2 separate regions of the Homo sapiens genome follow, and region 1 is linked to region 2. Evidence: fine-mapped expression QTL. A gene starts in region 2. The other region holds a variant in brackets. All regions are shown on one strand. Distances are from middle to middle.

Region 1 (2,774 bases), 25 kb after region 2:
TTCTTAAAGATGGTTCAAGCTCCCAAGTTGGTATTCTGCAGACATAACTGTTCTTTGCTGTTTAGAAATAGGGGAGTAACTCCAGAGTTCATTCCTTTGTATATGTATAGTGTTGTTCATTGTATAACCTTATTTATTTACCTGAATTGTCATTATGTGTGGTTTTACTGTGAGAGAATGTCTGGTTTAATGTATTTTAGGAAAGTGTTTTCTGTGGCTTATGTATATAATATATAGGAAGAGATTTGGATCAAGATAATGACCTTTAAAAATTTTTGTAATGAATATTTTATTTTTAGGTACCTGGCAAAGAATTCTGCAACTTTGTTCAGTGCCAGCGATTATGAAGTGGCTCCTCCTGAGTACCATCGGAAAGCTGTGTGAGAGGCACTCTCACTCACTTATGTTTGGATCTCCGTAAACACATTTTTGTTCTTAGTCTATCTCTTGTACAAACGATGTGCTTTGAAGATGTTAGTGTATAACAATTGATGTTTGTTTTCTGTTTGATTTTAAACAGAGAAAAAATAAAAGGGGGTAATAGCTCCTTTTTTCTTCTTTCTTTTTTTTTTTCATTTCAAAATTGCTGCCAGTGTTTTCAATGATGGACAACAGAGGGATATGCTGTAGAGTGTTTTATTGCCTAGTTGACAAAGCTGCTTTTGAATGCTGGTGGTTCTATTCCTTTGACACTACGCACTTTTATAATACATGTTAATGCTATATGACAAAATGCTCTGATTCCTAGTGCCAAAGGTTCAATTCAGTGTATATAACTGAACACACTCATCCATTTGTGCTTTTGTTTTTTTTTATGGTGCTTAAAGTAAAGAGCCCATCCTTTGCAAGTCATCCATGTTGTTACTTAGGCATTTTATCTTGGCTCAAATTGTTGAAGAATGGTGGCTTGTTTCATGGTTTTTGTATTTGTGTCTAATGCACGTTTTAACATGATAGACGCAATGCATTGTGTAGCTAGTTTTCTGGAAAAGTCAATCTTTTAGGAATTGTTTTTCAGATCTTCAATAAATTTTTTCTTTAAATTTCAAAGAACAATGTGCTTGTGTTGATGCCTTACAAAAACCATTGTATATTTGTGTATTCCTTCTTGTATTTAGACAGTGGTTTTTCAGGTGCGTGCTTTGTTTTCTGGTATGGCCTTTATGGAATGAGACGCTTTAGCTTTGGTACGTAGCGCTAATCCATAGCAGCTTTGGCAGTTTGCTGTCTTGAGTCTTAGCTAAAAAGTTAGAAGTTTACATGACTGTTTTTTTTATTTTCCCTAAATTATTACTTACTCTGAGCATTAATTAAGGGCATTTTCACCTGTGTAAAATTATGGTCAGCTTTTTTCTGTCTATAATTGTTTACTTTTGTGGGTTTACTCTAGAAACATGAGCCAAAAATGTCAATAGACAACACAGTATTAAAATAACCCAAAAGTTGTAAAGGGCAACGTTTCTCCCCTTTGATAG[G/A]GACACTAAAGTGGTCTGTACTTGGGTAGAGGATGGCAGACGTTAAGAATTAAAATGCGTCTGGGTGCAGTGGCTCACGCTTGTAATCCCAGCACTTTGGGAGGCTGAGGCGGGCGGATCACCTGAGGTCAGGAGTTCGACACCAGCCTGATGAACATGGAGAAACCCCATCTCTACTAAAAATACAAATATTAGCTGGGCGTTGTGGCGCACGCCTGTAATCCCAGCGACTCACGAGGCTGAGGCAGGAGAATTGCTTGAACTCAGGAGGCAGAGGTTGCAGTGAGCCAAGATTGTGCCATTGCACTCCAGCCTGGGCAACAAGAGTGAAACTCTGTCTCAAAAAAAAAAAAAAAAAAACCCTCAGAAAACAATTAAAATGCAAAGCAGCAGATAAGTTCAGATGGCGAGAGTTACAGCAGCAATACAAGAGGGATAATGAGTGCAGGAGGGAAATAGGAGTAAGTTCCAAAGAAGCAGGATTTGCTTGGGTTGTTTGAAGGGAACTGCTTCTACCCATAGTTGTCTTCCTGCCGCCTCCTTCATTCGGCTTACTTGTTCTCTTTTTCTTTACCCTTTTTGTCACAACTGTACTGATTTAGTTGGATTTCTAACAAATAGGGATTGTTGTTGCCTGGGGTCTTTCAGCTGTTGAAAGTTCTTGTTTATCTAGATGTGACTTAAAAAATGAAACACTTCAAGAATTTACGTGTCATTCTTGGCACAGGGGCCATGCTAATCTTGATTGTTTGAATTTTTAATATTTTTGCTAACAAAATGAGCCCTAGATGTGATTTTTTTTTTTAATGTGTACTCATGGTCCCTTGAACATTAGTGTTACTGGTTAGGTATTTAAAGATTTTCTTGCCGAGCGTGGTGGCTCACACCTGTAATCTGTAATCTCAGCACTTTGGGGCTGAGGTGGGAGGATTACTTGAGCCCAGGAGTTTGAAAGTAGCGTGGGTAACGTAGGGAAGAGACCTTGTCTCTACAAATAATTTTTTTTTTTTTTTTTGAGGCAGAGTCTCTCTCTGTCATCCAGGCTGGAGTGCAGTGGTGTGATCTCGGCTCACTGCAAGCTCCGCGTCCTGGGTTCATGCCATTCTCCAGACTCAGCCTCCCGAGTAGCTGGGACTACAGGCACCCGCCACCATGCCTGGCTAATTGTTTGTATTTTTAGTAGAGATGGGGTTTCGCCACGTTAGCTAGAATGGTCTCGATCTCCTGACCTCGTGATCTGCCTGCTTCGGCCTCCCAAAGTGCTGGGATTACAGGCATGAGCCACTGCACCCGGCTTCT
Region 2 (2,774 bases):
TCTCACAATAAACTGACGGAAATGGTGCTATTTTGCAGCTTAGCCAACAAAGTTGTTTTTGAACAGGGAACGACATAAATCCGTTTGTTTAGGCCAGGCACGGTGGCTCACGCCTGTAATCCCAGAACTTTGGAAGGCCAAACCGGGCGGATCACGAGGTCAGGAGTTCCAGACCAGCCTGGCCAACATGGTGAAACCCAGTATCTACTAAAAATACAAAAATTAGCTGGGCGTGGTGGCACATGCCTGTAATCCCAGCTACTCCGGAGGCTGAGGCAGGAGAATCGATTGAACCTGGGAGGCGAAGGCTGCAGTAAGCAGAGATCGCGCCACTGCACTCCAGTCTGGGCAACGGAGCGACACTCCATCTCAGAAAAAAAAAAAAAGGTATAATATTGAAGAAATCCGTTTGTTTAGAGTGACAAGAAGCACAAACAGGGCAGGTACGGAATACAGACGTTGACATATTCACACTAGCCTTTTTCAGAAAGCAGAGCTCCATTATCTCAAAAAGCTAAAGCGTGACTAGTGTTTCCCACGTCATCATCCTCATTTCCGCAAGGCTGGGCTGGAGAAGAGGAGGTAGACCTAGGAGCCAACAAATGGCTATCAATCCCACCAAATAGGCTCCGCAGTGGGGTTGCTAAACAACGAAGCTTCCAGAAGCGGACCCCAGTTCCCACCCTCTTGCTGATCCTAAAGCCTTTCTATGCAAAAACTAGCGGAATGCTATTGAATGTAGGTTTCCGAGCCAGCCCTATTCTCTCCGACTACTTCAACATCAACGGGGGCTTATTTGCCCAAGGGACGTCGCAACTGGGCCTTTCCCATTCTATTATCACTGGTGGCTCACCACCCCCACTCTCCCCCATCGCCAGCTCCGCCTTAACCTCCCACGAAATCAAATCCCCGCTTTACCAACCCGCAGCAGCCGGGGGCATGGAGAGAGAAGCGGGGGTGGGGTGGGGTAGGGTAGCCGGCCCCTCCCCCACCCGGGGGGGGGGGGGGGGCGCCTCCACCGACTCCGAACTACCAGTCCCGGCGTGCCCTGGGGCGGCGCGGGCGCAGGGGCGCGTGCGCGGCGGGCTGTCGTTGGCTGGAGCAGCGGCTGCGCGGGTCGCGGTGCTGTGAGGTCTGCGGGCGCTGGCAAATCCGGCCCAGGATGTAGAGCTGGCAGTGCCTGACGGCGCGTCTGACGCGGAGTTGGGTGGGGTAGAGAGTAGGGGGCGGTAGTCGGGGGTGGTGGGAGAAGGAGGAGGCGGCGAATCACTTATAAATGGCGCCGAAGCAGGACCCGAAGCCTAAATTCCAGGAGGGTGAGTGTGCGCCTTTGGGAAAAAGGCACCTAACGGCGCAGGAGATAGAGGCGGGCTCGAGGTGATTGAGGCTTGAGGGCCGGGGGCGGCGCGGGCTGCGCCCTGAGAAGGCGGCGGTCAGTGCTTTGTGCGGGGAAAGCGCATTGCGGATGGCAATTCCGGTGCGTCATTGTGAGAAAGCGCTTTGTGAAGCGAGAGTGCTGCGCAGGCGTTAGAGTGGGAGAGAGAGCGTTTGGCGCGTGGCACACCCTCGTCAAGTGTTTGTTATTGTTCTGAGGAAGAGGGCGCGGAGAGAGCAGCCTATTGTAGGGAGGCGACGGGAGCGCCATGGCGGCGGTTAGGGGAAGTGATGTGGCGGCGGGGGGGGAGGGGCGGTGGCTGTTTCGGGCGGTCCTGCGGCGCGCCCGGCCGCTTGGGCAGCTACGACGGGTTTTTCGGTGCTTCCTGGAGCCCCGGGGTGGTTGCGTTCGGTGGCAACTCAGCTGCGGATGGGGGTGGGTTTGGCGCCACGGGGCGGGAGAAGTGCGTTGTAAAATGGCCGTTGCAAGATGGCGGCGCCATCATGGCCGCCGGCGTCTCGGTCCCGTATGGAGGCACAGCTTACGGGCAGATGCAGCGCCCCCTTCCACGACGACCAGAAGGTTGCCGGGGCCCTCCGCATACCACAGAGTGGTGGGTGGGGACAGAAAAAAAAAAGTGAGATGAGCGTTTTCCTCCGCTTTGTGTTGCCTGGAGGCATCACTCTGCTATTCTTGGGCGCAGTGCCGAGATCCTATGGTAATGTGAGTGAGCTCTCGCTTTGCAGTTGCTCGTAAAAAGTAAATAAAAATGATCTGAATGCAGTGTTGACGCCGTTTGCATTTGTAAGTCCCATTGCCTCGACGTCATTTTTTAAATGCAGTAATTGTTTGATTAGTTGCAGTGTTTAACAATGACTTGAAAGTTGAATTTCTTTTTATTAATTGGTTTTCGATTGACATGAGTTTTGGGTAAGGTTAGACTGACTCCCAGTGGAAGGCAGCTCTTTAAATTTTCACAACGCTTCAGTTAACGTATAATAAGGTGGAGGTCTAATAGCTAAAAAGGAAGTAAAGTCCTGTTGAGAAAGGAGGAACACTTTAACATTCCTTTTCATTGCTATGGAAATTTATGCTAGTTACCGTAAATACGATGTCTACATGCGTACGATTTTTGTTCTAGGGGTTTTTAGACTTGCATTAGAATTCCTTTTAGAGCCGTAAACCTCAAACCGTAGTACTGCGTATTTTAAGTTTATGGAATATTTAAGGAGGTTTTAGGGGTATTTTGTTAATGAGTGACTTTTTTTGTTTGTATTTTTGAGACGATGTTTGTCACCCAGGCTGTAGTGCAGTGACGCTATCTCGGCTCACCTCTGCCCCCCACCCGGGCTAAAGCGAGCCTCCCAAGTAGCTGGGATCACAGACGCGCGCCATCACG

What was found. PIP is the estimated chance that this variant, and not a neighbour inherited with it, causes the effect.
Region 1: its variant is the best candidate, but not a certain one, in a credible set for the expression of MORF4L1 in whole blood (TOPMed, PIP 0.71).

Annotation. Positions count from the first base shown.
Region 1 is chr15:78,896,684-78,899,457 of GRCh38, forward strand. It overlaps MORF4L1 (mortality factor 4 like 1), which reads left to right. Exons shown (of 12, transcript NM_006791.4): 12 at 300-1,456. The coding sequence ends at 384. It also overlaps the pseudogene RNU6-415P. Among named protein-coding and RNA genes, the nearest start is that of MORF4L1, 25 kb to the left of the region's middle. The variant G/A (reference allele first, on the strand shown) is at 1,476.
Region 2 is chr15:78,871,742-78,874,515 of GRCh38, forward strand. MORF4L1 (mortality factor 4 like 1) reads left to right here and starts at 1,149. Exons shown (of 12, transcript NM_006791.4): 1 at 1,149-1,316. The coding sequence starts at 1,277. RefSeq lists silencers at 921-1,180, 1,591-1,650, 2,652-2,761 and enhancers at 1,736-2,367, 1,761-2,000.